Linked DNA regions of Homo sapiens. The protein of the gene in region 3 interacts with the protein of the main gene of each other region in a biochemical or structural test. Each region holds a gene or a part of one and is shown on either strand. Other genes may lie near its edges. The genes, in order: SMURF2, HIVEP3 and RUNX2.

The links.
Region 1: of the proteins of RUNX2 (region 3) and SMURF2, one has a biochemical effect on the other in vitro, tested with the Homo sapiens proteins (one study listed by BioGRID).
Region 2: the proteins of RUNX2 (region 3) and HIVEP3 form a complex in vitro, tested with the Homo sapiens proteins (one study listed by BioGRID).

Annotation. Positions count from the first base shown.
Region 1 is NC_000017.11:64,543,708-64,547,461, reverse strand, and holds part of SMURF2 (E3 ubiquitin-protein ligase SMURF2), read left to right. Parts: intron 1-1,123; coding exon 1,124-1,199; intron 1,200-1,514; coding exon 1,515-1,614; 3' UTR 1,615-3,754. UniProt on the Homo sapiens protein: E3 ubiquitin-protein ligase which accepts ubiquitin from an E2 ubiquitin-conjugating enzyme in the form of a thioester and then directly transfers the ubiquitin to targeted substrates.
Region 2 is NC_000001.11:41,917,356-41,921,109, forward strand, and holds the start of HIVEP3 (transcription factor HIVEP3), read right to left. Parts: upstream 1,568-3,754; 5' UTR 1,058-1,567; intron 1-1,057.
Region 3 is NC_000006.12:45,326,432-45,330,185, forward strand, and holds the start of RUNX2 (runt-related transcription factor 2), read left to right. Parts: upstream 1-1,898; 5' UTR 1,899-2,029; exon of another isoform or gene 2,030-2,064; intron 2,065-2,229; 5' UTR 2,230-2,295; coding exon 2,296-2,353; intron 2,354-3,754. UniProt on the Homo sapiens protein: Transcription factor involved in osteoblastic differentiation and skeletal morphogenesis. Essential for the maturation of osteoblasts and both intramembranous and endochondral ossification.

The DNA.
Region 1 (3,754 bases), on a different chromosome or scaffold from region 3:
ACCTTCTTCTCCCTCCTTTCTTTTGTTCCCTTCCCAAGAGCCTTTTCTGCGGGCTTCTCTGATTGTAGTGAGTGCCGCATGCTAGAGACCGTACGTGGTGATGCTCTGCCTTTGTTTTCTGGTCACCTTACTTTTAATTCTGTTGCACATTCCTGTAGGGAAGTCGTTCACTTCCATGTTCACATCTTGACCTGGTGAAACGTTTACCTGCCTGGGATGCCTCTCCCCTCTACTTTTCGTTCTTTCTCTTATTAGACAGAAGCAGCATGGGTCATGGAAACCATCTGTTCGGTCAGAGCATTTTAATTACTGCATGGCATCAGACCATTTGTTTACAACCATATTCCTTTTTTAAGAATGGTTTTCTGTGGAATAAGCTGGTTAATTTTGGGAGGAGCTGGTAATATTGCTAATGATTGTGGTGCTTCACTGGGTGGCAGTTGCTTCCTTTACCTCTTAAGCACTTCATTTTCAAAGCTGCTGGTGATGAATAAGGACACACAAAGCGACACTGGTACATAATTCGACAGTGCTGCCCACAGCGCATGCGCTGAAATCCCTGGGGGGAGAGCGTGCTTTCAGCTGTGCTGCCCTTCTCTGTAAGGAGAGCTCCTCATCCTCACACTTCCCAGATGCATAAAGTGAAGTTGTATTTCTGCTACATGTATTTATATGGGGTGCCTGTGCGAACTGAAATGGATTCTATAGACGGCTCTTTTGCTGTCAGCCCAGTTTGAGTCATGAAATCTAAATTTGCATCAGGTCGTCATCTTTTTGAATGTGTGCCTATGTATTTTACCTTGGATTTGCCTGATTACTTTTCTTCTCATGCTTTTGGGATATTGACTTTCTATAAAAGATAGAAATTGAGAAAGGGATTTCAATCTTGAGTTTTTTCTCAAATGGAAATGTGAACCTATTACGGAATCTAAGCCTTATCCAAGGTTAATTCTGGCTCTTAAAACCCAGATGCTTTTCCTGCTGCCCTTTGGTAGTATGTGTGGATTCATTAGCATTCCCCTATCCCCAGATCCTGTGGTTAACTTACCAGTTTTATTCTTAAGATTTTGGAGACTAATGCACGCACCTGCAGTGATTTCATCCACATTTCCTTCATTTGCAGGTGCTGCAGGCCCGAGACTCTTTACCATACACCAGATTGATGCCTGCACTAACAACCTGCCGAAAGCCCACACTTGGTAAGGTATTTTTGTAGCTGTATTCCCCATTCCATGTACATAAGTGTTAGTTCCAAACAGATTTGACTTTTTATTTATTGTACTTACTAGTGTTAAATGGGCCTTTAAAGGGAATGATAAGCAACTTAAGTGATTTAAAAGTTAAGATTATTCGGAAATTGGTAGGAAAACCCAAAAGTGGTCATCTCTGTTTTAGAGAAATACCTTTTAGTTTTCTGTGTGACACAGAGTGATGTGGCTATACTGGTATACACTTGCTAGGCCAGTTTACTTATTTTGAATGAACTGTATAAAATTTGATTTGCTTATTCACAGCTTCAATCGAATAGACATTCCACCCTATGAAAGCTATGAAAAGCTATATGAAAAGCTGCTAACAGCCATTGAAGAAACATGTGGATTTGCTGTGGAATGACAAGCTTCAAGGATTTACCCAGGACTCTATTTATACAACCCTGACTGACAGCCTCCTTTCAGCAGAGTTTCAAAGAATATGCTGAAATACAGGAAAACACTCCCCCCCCCCCCCTTTTTTTTTTTTTTTTTACATTTTAGGACACTGTGAGGGGAAAGGACAATTTTGAAATTCCTTTTCAAGGAAAAAAAAGGTCTTTATGCTTTGCCATGAGGCCACATTCAGCTGCTATTTAAACTTAATATCTTGAACCTAAAGAATGCTGACTTTTCCTACATTTCCAGAGTTAGGCAGTATTCTACACTTAAAGACTACTACTATTTTTATAAAAGGTAATCTATTCAAATTTCTTCACAGATTTCAAGTCTCTCAAACATCAAGACAACTTCAGCAGTCGGTACAAGTCACATTTCATTTTGATTGAATACATGATCTTGAACAGCTCCTGTACTTGCTCTTTGTAAAAAAAAATAAAATTATTTTGAATTATTCTACCTTTGTAAACAATTGGCTAAAAGAATCATCTTTAAGAAATTAAGCCATTTACATGTTTGTGTTTTTCTATAGCAGAGCATTATATTTTGCATTATATGTTTCAACCTAGTCTAAGTGGGTCTTTTTTACATTTTTCAAGAACGGATTTCCTGGAATACAGCGATATAATTTTGGTTGTCAAATTCCTAATGCAACCATTTAGTCTAAACTTAGTCATTTATTTGTGACAATAAGATGTGTTCAGGGGCTCCCTGTTTTTAAGAGACTCTTTTAAAAAAAAAAAAACCTAATGTTTTTATCTTGAGTCAATATGATTAGGTATTTTGGATTTACTTTTAATCTTAAAATACTGCATTTTTATAGCTTCTCAGAGCATGTGGATGGGATGGGATTTTCGTTATTTTGCTGGGTCAGCTTATCTTTAATATATGGACTATTCCTATAAACCAAAGTCTCTGACAAGTGCACCTAATTTATATTGTATTTTAACTACAGTGTAAGTTTCCATTAACAAAACCATCCTAAAGCGTTAACTGCTCATAATTTTAATCAGCTACAGTTATGAAAAAGGAAGAATTTTGCTCTAAAGATTATTAATAAGCTTAGAAAATCCTGCTTTTACCTAACAGAATGAAGTGGGGTTGAGGGGCGGTAGTATGAACAGTGATTCTAACTCTATGGCGTAAATTACTTTGAAGAGTTCATTTTGGAAGTAAGGGAATCCCGCTTCCCTTGGTGTTGAAGATCTGCATCTGATTTTGAAACGTCCAGATTTAGCTTTCAAGGTGCGTGCATGTTGAATGATCCAGAAGCAACGAAAACTCTGGGGTGAGGGATTGAAAAAATCTGAAATCACAGTTGGATTTTTAAATTCAACCATCAAAAATATGTACTATCAGTTTTTTTTTACATTGATGTGAAATAAGCAAATTTTCATGATAATTAAGCTGCAAAATTTAAAGTTATCAAGTAAATAGGTCCTCTGTGTTCTGTTTCATGTGATGGAGTGGGTTTCAGTCTGTGTTCTTGGAGCCAAAGGGTTCCTCAGGGGTGCCTCAGGAGTAATGGTTTAAGAGAAGAGGGGCAATGAGAGGGAGCGAGGGGGAAGGCCTAGTTGGTATTTGAGCAGGGGCCTTAGGCTCCATATCCCCACCCCCTTTACCCAGAACAGCCCATTTTTCTTATGTATATTGGAATTTCAAGTAAGCTTTCATGGGGTGCAGTGGGGCGGGGAGGAATGGATGGGATAAAAAAAGTGGAGATTTTGCTGCTTTAAAAAAGTTGAGAACTACTTGTGTAGTTTTTAAGTATTTTAATGTATTTCATTTGGCCAAATTCAACTGCCACAAGCAAGCTAGTCATAGTTGTAACTGTGCAGTGGTAATATGCTTATGCCTACCTTTTTCCTCTCAAACAATTTGTTTTTTTTACATTGCATTCTGAGTACTGAAGAGCATCTTGAAATGTATGGAAGTGGTTTCTATGCTATTTGATAATCAGTAATGTTCAGCTGTCATGATAGTACTTTACTGGTTGCAGACCCATCTCTCTTTTATATTAAAGCACTAGTGCAGTTTATAATTGTGCCTACTTTTAAAATCTTTCAGTAAAAAAGTACATAATGAATACAGAAATCATAACTGAC
Region 2 (3,754 bases), on a different chromosome or scaffold from region 3:
AGGTAGCCAGTGGGCACCTGGCTGCTGTGGTTACAATGCCAAGGGCTACCAGAAACGTCAGCGTATACCAGAAAGAGGGCCAGGGTGCTGCTCACCCAGCGACCAGATCTGCAGACCCTCTTCCTGCAACCACTGCCCCCGAAGTTCAAGGAAGGGCCTAGCCACAGAAATATTCCTGACCTGCAACAGAAACCAAACCAGCTACGTTAAAGGAAACCAATGCCGAGCCTCCAAGTTCCTCTGCACCACTGCCACACTCAGGAGTCCTCAGCAGCCTGGACAATATCATTAGGGACCATTCGGCACCATCAGTGTTTCCATTTAAAAGATAGTAAAATGTGGGGCATAACTTGGAGGGGACACTCTCTCTGCTAGCAGGGAGGCAAGAATCCCCTATAGAATAGGAGTTTGGTTTGGGTTTGGTTGGGTCAGGTTGGGGGTTGGGAAATGATTTTGCTTTAGGAATATTTTCAGGGGGCTAGGATTAAGGGGGAAAAAGAAAGCTATCCCCTCTGTCTCAGCAGCCAGCATCATACGAATCTCACTCTCAACCAAGCAGGCTACTGCAGTCCGCCTAAACAATCCGGAGCAGCAGCCAAGGCAGCACAAGAAAACGCCGGTGCCACGGAACGCGATGCCTAAGCCCCCCAGCCGAGGCTCCTATGGAGCCGGCCGCCAGTGCGCGGGTGCAGAGCCCAGCAGAGCCTGCTGCAAGCAGCGCTGGAGCGCACGGCGCGCATAGGGTTACAGCCCCGCCGCCGCCGCCGCCGCCGCCGCCTGTGATTGACGCGCGGGGGTCACTTGAGGCTCGCGCCGCTCCCCAGCACCAGGCCGAGCAGCGCGCTCAGCCCACCGGGGGCACTGGCCGCCACGCGCAGCCCACCCGGCCGGCCCCTGCGTCTCGGCAGCCGGACACCTTGCCTAAGAAAGGCATACACAAAATGGAATCGCAGCTCGCTATTCTGCTTCGCGGTGCGGCCTCAGGCAAAAACACAATCACAAGGTAAAATACAGCGCAAGGAATCCATCCGCCGAATAAAAACCCAGAGTCCCCTACCTTCGGCCTTGGGATGGCAAACTGGTCCTGTGTTCTCTGACCCACGGATCCAGCCCCTTCTTCATGAATTATTCCGGCCAGGCAGGATTTTGTGCATTTTTTTCATGAACACCTGTTTCAAGTAAGGGGTAAAGACCTTATTGAAAGAATTGTCCTTAAAAAATAACCTGTGCATACGTATGTCCATCCAGGCATGCATGCGTGTTTGTATACACACATATGCACACGGAATAGCCATGTACATTGAAGCACCAAACTAGGCAGCTGGATAATGGGAGAGTCGGCTGGTTGTGAGCATGCTCGCGCCGGGAACAGATCCACCCTCTGTTATTCCTCTGAATAAATATAAATCACGATCAGAAACCCAAACAGAAGCATCCCTCTTGAATTCGTGCTGCTGAAAAACACGGAATAAATTCAGCCTGCAGACACAGAATCTAATCAGCAGCTGTTTTCTGAATCCAGAGCCAACCCATGCCTCGCTTGTCTTTTCCACTAGGAGTCCAGACCTTTTTTGAAAGGGGGTTTAACCTTTTAAAGACACAGTACACCAATTATCACTTCGGAATAGCTGTCACTCCCAGCGCAGGAAGCCAGTCCCATGCCTAAAGGCACAGTAGGCTTGCACACAGTGATAAGGATTTCATTTATTGGTGCTTTTTAAAAAACAACATATATGTATAATATATGTGCATATATATGCACATATATATGCACACATATTATATATATATACGTGGAGAGAAAAAATGCAAATGCAAGTCATAAATATTTATTGCACTGATGAGCTTCTCAGTACTAATTGGCACGTTATGTAAACACTATGATCCTTCACTTCTGAACACCCATGTTCACGGGTCAGACGAGACAGGGCACTCTTGTCAGCAAGCGTGTCACACCTCACCAGCCTCTGGCTGCAGATCAGGGGCCGGGGAGCCTCAACAGTGCCTGAAGGGAGTGGGGTCTCTGCACCTGAGAGCTCAACACGGGCACTCCTTGCCCTGCCCTGCCTTGCTCTGCAGTCTCAGGGTCCATGTCCACAAATCAAAGAATAGTTCTGGCACTATTTCTAAAGTCGAACATAATCCAGAGCCACATCGCATTCCAAGACATACTTTCTTTCAACCAGAATCAGGAATCAGAACTACCACCTGAACCTTAGTTAGAGTCTTTACGATTCAGACTTAGGCCCTTCTTCAAGATTTTGTTATTGAGTTCTGTTGTTTTGTTTTTCACTTTTCTTTTAAGGGTCAGCATGGAGGTATGGAGGTAGAAAAACAGGGTAGGGGGAGAGACAACCTCCAGCCTAAATTTTTTTGAAAAAAATTATTCTTCGAGTACTTCAGCCACCCAGATGGTGTTTACTGCAGTTTTGTTCTGGCTTTTAAAGAGGTAGCGCTGAGAAGAAACAAGAGTCCTAACCTTGCTCACGTGTGTTAAGAAGGCAAATGTCTTTGACAGTTTCTTTTTCACCCCAGCCCCAGAGCTCCAGCATGGCGCTGTCTGCTCCTCCGCTGGTTCCCGCCTAAGAGCAGCGGCAGTGGCTCACCTCGGGAGCTACAGGGGCGCTCCTACAGCCGCTCCAGCATCACAGCCCATTCCCTCCCTTGCCTAGTCCTGCCAGGCAAACCGTGAAAACAAGTGCACTGTCACCCTCCCACCTCATCACAGGCGCTCCTGTGTGGACCCCTCCCAGCGACACACACACACTCTCTTCCTTCCCCTCTTCCAGGGCCCTTTGGCAGAAAATTATCATATTTCATGTGTCATCGCCCAAGCAAGCTGGGTCCATCACTGATTGGCTGGGCCCTGGCAGCCGGAAATGTCACCAGCCACACAGCGTGGAGCTGGCTCTCCCGCGGCCACCACAGACCTGAGCCCAGGAGGCTCTGTGACAAGGCACAGACCTACCACAGAGAGCCTGTCACTCTCTCCCTGGTCCAGCCCCTGCCCCCTGCTTCTCCATCTACCCAGCCCCCCGGGGAATAGGGGCTGCGAGGGGATGGTGAAGGAGTCTCAGTGACATTCCTATTTTCCCAGCATGTTTGAGAAGAAACTAAAGATGTCTCCAATCAGGTTTATAAATTTGGAGAACTTGTTTTTGACAAAAACATTCTGTCTTCACACTAAAAAAAAATCAGTAAGACTGGGTGAAAACAAGATGGTTTTTTTTTTTTTGTTTTGTTTTTTACCCCAGGAGAGTTTACTAGATGCTGCTGTTTATTTCCCATCTAACATCTCAGGCACCAAGGTATAATCATGTCACAGGGCTGTCCGATAATTCAGAAGGTGATTCGAGTCCATCCTCTTACCTTTAAAGAGAACAGCTCCAGAAAATGAGGCTTTGTAACTTGGCTTTGCAATGTATCATGATGCCACACAACTTTTTAAGGGTTAAATGATCTTTGTAGTGACCAACATGAATCACTTCAGCTGTAATTTAATCTTAGTCCCTCCTGCTGTATCTTCAGCAGGCTTAGTGTGACTCACCATTTAAGTCTCACCTTATTCTGTTCTCCTGAGTAAACTAAACTCTATCTCTCTGTCCTTTTCAGTAAAAGTTTTTCTCAACCCTTTAATTATGCTGCTTTAAAGAAAAAGCCTCCCAGAGTTACATGAGTCTGGAAGGTCATTTGGTCCATCTATCCATATGATGTGTCAGAACTCTCCACTATTTCCATACGGGGGCTTTTGGTT
Region 3 (3,754 bases):
TAAAAGAGAAAAAATAATTTTTCTCTCCTTCACATGAATAACTGCATGTTAAATGAACGCTTTTACCTTTCAATGTAAAATCTGTTTACACATACAATAAGGCATGATAAATCCATAGTTAAAATAAAACACCAAAATGTATTTCTGGTTTTTTATCACTAAAAGTTTATTCTGAAAAGGTTCTGGACATTTGAAAAATAAAGGACTAGAATCATTCCCATACCCTACCAGTGTATTTTGGGAAAATCAAATTTTCTGTAAAGAAACTTATGAACATATTTGTACAGTTATTGTGATCTAATATGAACCAAAAGCAGATAATGAATAGCACTAGGAAGAACACAGGGATATTTTAGTTCTAACACCCTCCTGTCTCCCTAGCCCTTACCTCCCTGCACATTCCAAATAATCTTTTGTAATTCACTGTCTCCGCCCACCCCATTTACTTTATGCCACTCCTAGTTACTGTCACACTAGGAAGAAGTCTAACATGCAGATTTAGAGTGGCATGGATAAATGGCAAAAAAATGCCTAGAAAATTGGTCTGTTCGCCTTTATAATTTTGGTTGAAAAATACTCCATCGCTCCCAACTGATGAAAACAGGAAGCTCTATTCATAAATATAAAATTCACTGCCTATGATATATAATCATCCTAATAAGAAAATGAGTTCTATACATACTTGTCCAAAGGGGCAAAAAAGGAGATAGTTTCCCAAAGATGTTTCCAATTTTCTTCTGAATCAGAATTAGCAAATCGAGACGACTAACATACTCTGTCTGTGGGCATTATTCCTTACTACACACAGCATTTTGTAATTTATTTCAAAGCTTCCATTAGAAACAAAAAAATACATAGCTTCTGTTAACCCACTCTATTCTAAGCTCATAGAATCAAATACTGAACAATCTACATTATAACATAAGCATTTTACTTTATAGAAGATCTGCTATCAGAAACTCTATTAATGTCTAAACTACTTAAAGAACTATATAAACTGAATACACTTCAATGAAAGACAAAAAATATTACAATCATAAAGAAAACTAAGATTCATCCAATAAACTATATTACAATCCCTGTCATTCATTTTTTTAAGATCTTCAAACTAGGCATGAGATAATGGTATACATGAAACATTACATTTAATCTTTATTGTAAAGGCCGCCATCTAATAGATTGATAATAAACTAGACAGACGTGATTTAAAATTTGTAAAAGAATGCCCAGACTAACACTTTCATGACAGCCAATTATAGTCAAGCCTAGCAAGCAGTTTGCAACCAGACCTTAAGGTAAACTTTTTTTTTTTTTACAATGAGTTACAGATTCACAAGTTTAAGAAGACAAGAAAAAGGAAAACAGAAGGAATCCAGCCACCCAGCAAATATGAAGCAGACCCCAGAATGTGATACAGTCCAAAGATGTGAATTATTGTATATCATCACTGTTGTTCAGAATTTCACACAGACTCTTGAGCCAATTTTGTTCATTTTTCCACAGACACAATAATGAACTAAAAAGAGGAGGCAAAAAGGCAGAGGTTGAGCGGGGAGTAGAAAGGAAAGCCCTTAACTGCAGAGCTCTGCTCTACAAATGCTTAACCTTACAGGAGTTTGGGCTCCTTCAGCATTTGTATTCTATCCAAATCCTCATGAGTCACAAAAATTAAAAAGCTATATCCTTCTGGATGCCAGGAAAGGCCTTACCACAAGCCTTTTGTGAGAGAAAGAGAGAGAGAGAAAGAGCAAGGGGGAAAAGCCACAGTGGTAGGCAGTCCCACTTTACTTAAGAGTACTGTGAGGTCACAAACCACATGATTCTGCCTCTCCAGTAATAGTGCTTGCAAAAAAAAGGAGTTTTAAAGCTTTTGCTTTTTTGGATTGTGTGAATGCTTCATTCGCCTCACAAACAACCACAGAACCACAAGTGCGGTGCAAACTTTCTCCAGGAGGACAGCAAGAAGTCTCTGGTTTTTAAATGGTTAATCTCCGCAGGTCACTACCAGCCACCGAGACCAACAGAGTCAGTGAGTGCTCTCTAACCACAGTCTATGCAGTAATAGTAGGTCCTTCAAATATTTGCTCATTCTCTTTTTGTTTTGTTTCTTTGCTTTTCACATGTTACCAGCTACATAATTTCTTGACAGAAAAAAATAAATATAAAGTCTATGTACTCCAGGCATACTGTAAAACTAAAACAAGGTTTGGGTATGGTTTGTATTTTCAGTTTAAGGCTGCAAGCAGTATTTACAACAGAGGGTACAAGTTCTATCTGAAAAAAAAAGGAGGGACTATGGCATCAAACAGCCTCTTCAGCACAGTGACACCATGTCAGCAAAACTTCTTTTGGGGTAAGTGTTACCATTTTTAAAATCCTGTAAGATATGAACCTGTTAAACATAAAGGTATGATTCTTTGATAAACTGCTAGCTTTTCCAAATAGCATATTAAAGATCCTAATTATGCTATCTTGTTGCATTAAGAATTGAAAAATGAAATTTCTGTATATATTTGCATTTGGTATCTGTAATGTATCTAATTTTCAAAGTAATGACTTGAAATATACAAAATTAAATTATCTCACATTGATCAAAATGTTTTCTAGAGTTATAGAGGTGAGGATATGAAAACAGTAAAAGAAACAGTTTAATACTCTCATTAACCCTCACCAGAAGAAAAGTCAGATCCTAAATTAATCAAAGCATTATAAATTATTGACTCCGGCAGCTCCCAATATTTGAGCAAACTTCAAAAAGGAAGCAATTTTACAAAATAACAGACCACAGAATTATCTCAACATTATGGTCTACCATGTATAACACAGAAATAAACCTGTAGTACAGTTAACATTTTAACCAGCTCAACTAAAAGAAATCTACTTATAAATTCAAACTGTATCCTATCTAAATAAGTTTGTTTCTAAACAACTTTATATAAGTATACATTCAGCTGAAATAAAATTATGATAAGCACATCACAGCCATTTTTAAAAGATCTTTATAGTTGCCCAGGATATTAAAAAGTTCATGGAAGTATTTTAAAACTTACATGCAACTGCATTTTTCTATGTAATTTTAATTTTACATCTACACACTGTTATCCATAGACCTTGTTATAAACACACTGAAACACTGAAACGTCTAAGATTCTTTTAATCACATTCTTGGACCTACCAAAATGAATAACTGCTGTTTAGTCTCATGAAAAATAAAGCTCCATAAGGATACCCTGTATGATTTTTAAAAGCCACAACTATTAAACCATGCTGGACTTTAAAAGAAGTAGGCATAATCTTGTCCCTTAATATTTAATTTCAAGTTACTGTTGATACAGATATGTAAATGACTTTAACATTCATCAGCTGATGTGTTATTATAGCAAAATATCTAAACACACTTACAAGATTCTCTTTATGATCTCCAACATGTTCCAACTACAAGGCAAGTTTTCAAAAATTTTTCTTATATCCATTAAAATAAACCTTCTTGCTGTGTACATCTATATTAACTCTGCTTTTAACTTACAACTAATGACTGGAGTTTCCTTTACTCCTCCTACTTCACACATTTTAACTGGATACTACTAGAGGATCAGTCTCAGTTTAGGTCAAACAGAAATAATTAAACCTGAAGGGAGAAAAAATGGTTTCTCTTACAGGGTGAGGAAATGTACTTTGTATTTTACAAAAAAAAATGTAAAATTGCTTTAGTGACTCCCTCAATAGCTGTAAGTGGGCCCCCTCAGTTATAATA